Linked DNA regions of Homo sapiens: region 2 is linked to region 1. Evidence: fine-mapped expression QTL. A gene starts in region 1. The other region holds a variant in brackets. All regions are shown on one strand. Distances are between the middles of the regions. Region 1 holds the start of AXIN2 (axin 2). Region 2 has its middle 23 kb from the start of AXIN2.

What was found. PIP is the estimated chance that this variant, and not a neighbour inherited with it, causes the effect.
Region 2: its variant is the best candidate, but not a certain one, in a credible set for the expression of AXIN2 in whole blood (INTERVAL, PIP 0.50).

What each region holds. Positions count from the first base shown.
Region 1 is chr17:65,559,101-65,563,475 of GRCh38, reverse strand. AXIN2 (axin 2) reads left to right here and starts at 1,828. Exons shown (of 11, transcript NM_004655.4): 1 at 1,828-2,026. RefSeq lists a silencer at 1,665-1,814.
Region 2 is chr17:65,582,444-65,586,818 of GRCh38, reverse strand. No RefSeq gene overlaps it. Among named protein-coding and RNA genes, the nearest start is that of AXIN2, 23 kb to the right of the region's middle. RefSeq lists an enhancer at 2,785-3,319. The variant G/A (reference allele first, on the strand shown) is at 1,896.

The DNA.
Region 1 (4,375 bases):
TCCTCTTTTTTTCTTTTCTTTTTTTTTTTTGAGATGGAGTCTTGCTCTGTCGCCCAGGCTCACTGCAACCTTAACCTCCTGTGTTTAAATGATTCTCCTGCCTCAGCCTCCCGAGTAGCTGGGACTACAGGCGCCCCCCACCACGCCTGGCTAATATTTGTAGTTTTAGTAGGGACAGGGTTTCACTATGTTGGCCAGGCTGGTCTCGAATGCCTGACCTCAGGTGATCCGCCTGCCTTGGCCTCCCGAAGTGCTGGGATTACACGGGTGAGCCACCACACCCAGCCTCTTCCTTCTCTTTTTCTATGGATACCTAGATAGAGCCACAATTCTTGCATGTTTTAAAGTTCTGAAGGCCTAATGACAGGCCATCTCGCATTTAAAAGGGCTCGTCATCCATTAAGTTGGAGAGTAAGAGCCTTGCACAGCTCTGAGGCCAGGACTCTGCCTTTCACTTCTTGGATCTCTTTGGTTCACACCTTTATGTGTGTGTGTGTGTGTGTTTTTTTTTTTTTTTTTTGAGGGAGTCTCGCTTTGTCACCCAGCCTGGCGTGCAGTGGTGCCATCTTGGCTCACTGCAACCCCCCCACCCCCGTCTCCTAGGTTCAAGCGATTCTCCTGCCTCAGCCTCCCGAGTAGCTGGGACTACAGGCACGTGCCACCACACCCGGCTGATTTTTGTATTTTTAGTAGAGACGGGGTTTCGCCATATTAGGCAGGCTGGTCTCGAACTCCTGACCTCAGATGATCCTCCAGCATGGGCCTCCCAAAATGCTGGGATTACAGGCATGAGCCACCGTCCCCGGCCCTTTGTTTTTTAAAAGGAAGAAAAGTTAATTATTCGCTCATAACATAAGGAATCATTCTATAGCAGCAGCAGAATAAATACACAATGCTCTGGGTTTGTGACATATTTTCTCATTTTAACGGAGAAGAGAAGGTTGTGTGTGCCTTATAAACGTTTTTGGGCAAATGTGGGAGAAATTCAAAGGTGACAATGGGGTGAGGAGTTTTCGATACATTAAAACGGCATGCATGCCTTGTCGTTTGGAGTGGGAAAAAAGATATTCCTATCGGTTTAATATGTAACATATGGCAGAAGAGGGGACTTTGGAAGAGTAACGGGTATGCAGTTGTTTGGGAGAGATGGCCAATGTGTGCCGCTACGAGGGTCTTATGGCCAGCAGGTTAGGAAGCTGGACCTAGGTCTTCAGGGCACTGAGGTATGCCTCCTAACTGGTGTTAGCACTCAGGCCTATACTGGCGGATTCACACCCCACTTTCACACATGCACAAACGCAATTCATCCACCAACTGCAGTCCTATATTTACCCGAACTCAGATGCACGTGCACAAGCGCGCACAGGCATGCACACGCCTCCAGCGGCTGGGCCCGAGTCCGCCCTATGACAGCGGGCCAGCCAACCCCAGGGCCGGAACTCCCTTTATAAAGTCCTCCAAGCCCAAATTCCCAGGGAAACTTGAATAGAGGTAGAAAAGCGTTTGATGATAGAAAAAAAAAAATCTGCTTGCTTGCAGTTCTTGCGATGGCCATAATGCTACCAGAAACTGTTGCATTCCAGAGCCGGGGAGAGCGAGGGCAGGCAGGGGGAGGAGGCGGGAGCAAAGAGGCCGGAGAACTTAAAAGAAGAAATCAGAACTCGGGCTGAGAATGCCCTCGGGGCCGCGGGGGGCTGGCAGGGGGCGGAGGAGAGGCCGGGGAAGGGTTAACGCGGGAGCGGAGCGTGCGGCGGGGGCGGGCCGGGGCGGGGCGGGGCGGGCGCGGGGCGCTGTCCCTTTAAGGCGGGCGGCGCGGGCCGGCCGAGCGCGGCTGTGATTGGCGCGGCGGGATCACTGGCTCCGCGAGCCTGGCCCGGGGGAGTCGGCTGGAGCCGGCTGCGCTTTGATAAGGTCCTGGCAACTCAGTAACAGCCCGAGAGCCGGGAAATAAAAATAACCCCTCAGAGCGATGGATTTCGGGGCCGCCCGGCGGCCGAGGCGCCCGCCGAAGGCCCTGCTGTAAAAGGTGGGGGTGGAAGCTCGGCCCCAGCGGAGCCGCTTCAAAGAAAGCCCCCCTCTTACAGGGGGCGAGGTCGCGCCGAGCCGCGGCGTGGGCGCGGGGGGCGGGAGGGGGCCCGGCCAGGCGGAGGCCGGGCCTGGAGGGGGGCGCGGGCGGGGCGGCCCTGCGGAGCGGTGGCGGGGCTGCGGGGGGCGGCCCGGGGCGCGGCCGGCGCGTACCTCCCTTTCAGGACCGTGCGCTCGGCTCGCGCCTTTGAAGTGCACAGTTAAATCCACAGCGCAGTTTTTGTTGGAAGCGCCCGGAGGACATTTGGTGCGCCGAGTGACTGCTGGAAACAGGACCTGCGTTGAAAGCCGGGCCGGGCGGGGGCGGAGGCCCGCTCGGATCTTTTGCATAAAAGGGGCGGCGGGGCGCGCCGTTCCCCCTCCCCGGCCGGTGGCTTTCGCTCTGAACCCGGGATTGTTGTTTCCCGCACCCCCTCCCCCGCCGCACGACTCCCCATGTTCCCCGACGCCGCGGCCGGCCCGGGGGGGCCCGGGGCTGCCGCCGCGAGCCGAGCCGGGGGCCGGGGCCGGGCCCCTGCCAGGGGCGCCTGCGAGGTCTCGCCGCCGAGCGCGCGCGGGGATCAATGGTGAGTGCCGAGGCCGAGGCGGCCGGGCGGACCGCGCGCTTTGATGTGCGGGGCGGCCCTTTGAAGTTGGCAGGCCGGCTATTTCGGGGCGCGCTAGGGGCCGGCGCGGAGGGGAGCGGCGGACCCGGCGCCCAGCGTTCCGGGGGGCTTGGCCGGGCAGCCTTGCGCGCCCTGCGCCGGAGCCCCCTCCCCAGCGCGGTGACCGGGTTGGCGGGGGGCCCAGAGAGGAGACTTATCCGAGTGGCGGCAGTGGCGGGGGCGGAGAGGGGGCAGATACCCCCCGGGGGTCGCGTCGCTGTCGCGGTTATGGATGTGAGTCGGCGTGTGAGTGCGCGCGGGAGTGCCTTTGGGAGGTGGGATGAAAGGGTAGCGGCGCCCCCCGCTTGCCCTCCCCCGCCCCCCGCCTCTCCTCCGCCCCATCCTCTCCTCCTACTTCTCTTCCCCCTCCCCTTTTCCCCTCCCTGCCGCGGGTCCGCGCTAAGGGGCCCACAGCGCTGGCGGAGGCTCAGTCTGCGCGCAGGACCGGCCCAAGTCCGGGGCGCCCGTGTCCCTCGCGTCCCTCCTCCCGGCCCGGGCCCCTCGCCCGTGGCCGCCCCGGCCCCTTTTGCGGAGAGGCAGAGACTCCGCGCGTCGCCATTTCTGGACTAGGCTGCTGCTTTCTGTGCTTTTTCTGCGGGCGCCTCTGCAAACGGCGGCGCCGGGGACCGACCCCCCGCCCGGGCTCGGGGCGCTGCTGGCGTGTCCCGGGGTTCCGGCCTCGAGGTGTGCCCGCCAGGGCTCTGGAGGCGTTCAGTTGCATTTGGGCCGGGGGACCGGGCCGGAGGGGCTCGGAGGACATGAGAGCCTGGCTTCGGCGGCCTTCGTCTTCCAGGTAACGGGGCCGCTCCACCTCCCACCGCCCGGGTAGCGCGGTGCCAACGGCAGCCCCACTTCTCCGTGGGCCGCGCCGCCCAGCCCCGCGGCTCGAGGCTCTGGTCGGGTTCAGCGTGCACCCATCCCAGATCCGGGGTCCCTGGCTTCTCGCCCGGGGTTGCACCCCGTTCAGCCCCTACCCTTCTTAGTTTGATCTTTTCCGTGCTAGGGAAAGCAGCTTGTTTATTGGTTAGATAAGACTTTTTTCTTTGGAAAAAAGACAGGCTTGAAATCAGTAGAGTTTGGGATTCTTGGCACAGGCAGTAGTGGCGTGAGACGGCTGGTGATCCAGTTTTGTAGGTTTCGCGGATCCGGGAGGTGGGTTGGGGGCACGGGGGCGACGGTTCCGAGGCTTCTCAGCTCTCTCTCAAAGTTTGAAGATGAAAGTCTCCCCTGAGTGAGTTGGTTTCTGGTTTGGGGGGAGGTCAGGGAAGACAGAGGTGTTGACTGAGCTGGATTCTTGGTGGGGGTAGGGGGCGCGTAGCGAACACTCAAATCTGAGTTGGGGAGGGGGTGTTTGCGTGCTGAATCTGGGAGTCCGGGAGCCCAATCCGCCTATGCTGGGCGGGCTTCTCTTGGGCCAGGATCTTCTGAATTTTTAAGGAGTGGGAAGAGGGAGCGCAGAGGGAGGGGGTGGGTGGGGAGAATGGGAACCAGATGCCGGGGAAGGGCACGTTTGGAGCTCGAGTTATCTGTGCAGGGCCGAGTGGGGAAATATACCGAAATTGGTTTCACCTGCACACAGCCTAGCGGCTGGGAGTGCGCCTTTTTGGAGTTGATGGTATCGGGGGAGGGGAAGGGAGGGAAGGCGA
Region 2 (4,375 bases), 23 kb before region 1:
TTCTATGTTGATCTCTCACACAATGAGAGCTCCTGAAGAGCAAAAGTCCGGGTCTGACCATTGCTGACACTGCCCCCGAGTCTAAGCCAGTGCCCACCTGGCAGGCACCTGACATGTGGGTCAGAACAACCTGGTGATGCTCCCAGAGGAGCTCCATGAAACATGGTGCTATGGACCCAATCTGTCTCCCCAAAATTCCCATGTTGATGCCCTGACCCCCAATATTCAGAGATGGGGCCTTTGGGAGGTGATTAGGTTCAGATGAGGTCATGAGGATGGGGCCCTCATGGTGGGATTAGTGCCCCTATAAGAGGAGACACAAAGGCCAGGCACAGTGGCTCACGTCTGTAATCCCAGCACTTAGGGAGGCTGAGGCAGGCTGATCACCTGAGGTCAGGAGTTTGACACCAGCCTGGCCAACATGGTGAAACCCCATCTCTACTAAAAATACAATACAAAAATTAGCCGGGCGTGGTGGCGTGTGCCTGTAATCTCAGCTACTGGGGAGGCTGAGGCAGGGCAATCGCTGGAACCCAGGAGGCAGAGGCTACAGTGAGCTGAGATCGTGCCACTGCACTCCAGCCTGGGCAATAAGAGTGAGACTGCATCTAAAAAAAAAAAAAAAAAAAGAGATGCCAGAGAGCTTGCTCTCTCTCTGTCTCTCAGCCATAGCAGGACATAGCCAGAAGGCAGCCCTCTGCAAGCCAGAAAGAGAGCCCTCACCAGGAACCAAAGACGTCAGCATCTTCATCTTGGACTTCCAGCCTCCAGAACTGTGAGAAGTAAATATCTGTGATTTAACCACCCAGTGTATGGTGTTTTGCTATGGCAGCCCAAGCTGACTAATGCACATGGGTACAGTAAACCCAAATGTACATTTCTGGGCAAATACCAAAGATCCTGTTCTAGAATTCAGTGTCAAGACCTACCAAATATTTTTTAGGGTTGGTTTTTCTTAATTATGGGAGAAAGAATTGAGGCATTTCTGTCCATTAATTTTACCTGTATGTAATGACAATTACATCCATTGTTTTAGGCTATCTTGATCCAGGGTGGTCTAAAAATCACTGGGCTAAGCTGCTGACCCCTCAGCCTGACCTCCTGAGTCTCCAGAGAAAAGCTCTGGAATCCGGCTTTGTGTAGACCTCCCCCAGGACTCTGATGCAGAGAACAGGTGCAGCCCATGGTGCTGTCTAGCACCCCTGGACCTAAAAGCTCTAAGGCCAGGTCTGAAACTGAACTCATGAATGCTCTCACTCCAAGATCCCACTTGATCTGTTTGATCTATTTGATCCAGTGTGATCTGTTTGATATTTAAGTTTTATGAATTGTTTGCAAGTGACATACAATGTCAACAGTGAGTCAGGCACCCCCAAAGCCAAATAGGGTGGATTCATCAGAGATAAAAGCAACCAGCGAGACTGGCCTGCAAGAGTCATCCCGGCCACTCTCAAGGCATGTGAACGTTAGCCTCACCTTCCAAGGCCCAAAGTCCCTGCTCTTCCTGAGGTTCTCTTGGATCGGCCAGAGGGGCCCGTGTATGCGCTCTGCATTCTGCCTCGGGTTGGGGGGTTGGCTAAGAAGGGATCTCCTAGCTTCTGGGCCCTGAGCAGCAATCAGAGCCTCCTGGGGCCTGCGGGACTTCCTGGTGGCGCCACCAGCCCTTTTAGTGCCAGCACGTTGGCCTTGGCTTTGCTGGCTCTTCCAGCAGCCAGCACTGTCCCTGCCAGGAACTGTGATCCCACAGCCAAGGCTTTGTAGCCTCTTCATGGAGAGAGAGGCTGTGCAGCTTCCTCTTCAGCTGGGCCAGGGTCCCTTGGGGTTCCCTTTCTTCCAAGGCCACATCCCTTAAGAAACAAAGCAAGTCCTTCTCAGGTGCTCGTGATCCTTGCAGG[G/A]GGTGCCTCAAGGACCTTCCAGGCAGGTGGAGAGAGGCAGTGACCTAGTCTTGCAGGAAGTGTCCTCAGTCTTCATGCAGAAAGCCTTGGGGACCTGGGCAAGAGAAGAGTTAAGTTCTGGGCTGAGGCTTCAGTGTTCAATTTCTTTATTTCCTGTTGATGACATTATTGCCTTCCTACAACCATTGACACATGTTGCTTTCATCTGTTTCATTTCAAGACATGAGTACACTCGCTGGAAACTATGCTTAATAGCTAAACTCAAAACATTTGGATTTCCTTTCCTTCTGTGACTCTTTGCTGGTATGCTGCATTCTCTAGTTTTTTTGGGTGGTGGTGGCATGTGTGTTTTTTTCAGCCACCATTTCTAAGCAGCAAAAAGAGAAGTCACTGGCTCTCTGGCCACCTGCCTCAGGCCCATCTGCTGCATATGGGATATTTCCCTTCGCTGGAGGAGGCCTATGTTTGCCCCATGTTGTGGTGGTTGGAGAGCATCTCTTCGTCCTCTTCTTTTACCCAGCTCCTTCCCCTGCCTGTCAGGGAGAGGACCAGCCTTGTCAGGGAGAGGACCATACCTACAGGATGGGCAGATGGCTTCTTCCAGTTGCTGTGTGCCCTGGAGCCTGCACCTACCCTTCCCACCTTCCCCAGCAGTGCAGGGCTGCATGACTCATGGCTTGGACCTTCTGAACAGAGCCTCCGGAATAGAGAGGTGAGCTTGTCAGTCTGGACCCGAGGACTCAGGGGAACAAATAGGACTTGCTGCCTGGGCTGCCTGTGGAGGGGATCTGGGCAAAGCTCCCCTTGGCCAGACCTTGGATGGAAAGCGGCCATTGGAAGCAGGCCAGCCTCATCTGGTTGGAATAGGGTTTGACACGTGTTTCCAAGCCTGGTCGCAGAGCTGCAGCTGCCACTAGCCCTTCCCTGGGCCCGGACTGCGCTGCCCGTTGACAGTCTGCAAAGCAAGCAGTCAGTCTGCTATGGAAGGGTTTGCAAGGTGGATGCCCCCCTAGCCTGGGGTGACTGCCCAGCCCCCACCAGCCTCCTGGGAGGGACATATTCCCAGGAGGAAGCCAGAGGGGAGCGGGAGGGGAAGGCAGCCACAGTCTGACTCCCTAAGATGAAGAAAGTCACTTGCGGTATGCATGGACCTTTATGTCCATTTCTCCTTTTATCCTTCCCGTAACAGAACGGCTTATTCCCATTTTGCAACTGGGAAAAGTGAAGCCCAGGAAGGGTGAGAAATTTGCTCAAGCTAGGCCAGGTGTGGTAGCTCACACCTGTAATCCCAGCTGAGGATTACAGCTGGGAGGCTGAGGCAAGAGGATCACCTGAGGTCAGGAGTTCGAAACCATCCTGGCCAACCTGGTGAAACCCCATCTCTACTAAAAACACACAAAAATTAGCAAGTTGTGGTGTCAGACACCTGTAATCCCAGCTACTCAGGAGGCTGAGACAGGAGAATCATTTGAACCCGGGAGGCAGAGGTTGCAGTGAGCCAAGATCATGCCATTGCACTCCAGCCTGGGTGATAGAGCGAGACTCCGTCTCAAAAAAAAAAAAAAAAAAAAATCAGAAAAAAGAAATTTGCTCAAGCTCACAGAGTTGGGTTTGTTTTGTTTGAGACAGGGTCTCATACTGTCGCTCAGGCTGGAGTACAGTGGCGCTATCACAACTCACTACAGCCTTGACTTCCCAGGCTCAAGCGATCCTCCAGCCTCAGCCTCTCAAGTAGCTGGGACCACAGGTGCAAGCTTTCATGCCTGGCTAATTTTTAATTTTTTTTGTAGAGATGGGGCTATGTTGCCCAGGCTGGTCTCGAACTCTTGGGCTCAAGCAATCCTCCTGCCTCGGCCTCCCAAAGTGCTGGGATTACAGGTGAGCCACTGCCTTACACAGCTTTTAAATGCTGAAGTTGGGATATGGGCCCAGACTTGAGGTCACCAAAGCCAGTTTTCTTTGGGATGCATCAAACCTGTCTGCCTGGAGGGAGATGGTGGTGGGTGCACTAGGCTTGGTGGGTGCGCTAAGCTAGACTTTAAGAAGATGGCCGGGCTCGGTGGCTCACGCCTGTAATCCCAGCACTTTGGGAGGCTGAAGCAGGTGGATCACGAGGTCAGGAGTTCGAGACCAGCCTGGCCTACATAGTGAAACCCCATCTCTACTCAAAAATACAAAAAATTAGCCAGGTGTGGTGGCAGGCACCTGTAATCCCAGCTACTCGGGAGGCTGAAGCAGGAGAATCGCTTGAACCCAGGAGGTGGAGGTTGCAGTGAGCTGAGATTGCACCATTGCACTCTAGCCCAGGCGGCAGAGCGAGACTCCATCTCAAAAAAAAAACCAGAAGAGTCCATACTCCTCCCATTTTTCTCCTCGGTCCCTCTCTCCCACTTCATCCTGGGCCTCTTCTGTTCAGCAATCCACATTTCAGGCAAATAGGAAGAAAGTCCGCTAATAGACAGGTAAGCGTGGTTGTGTGC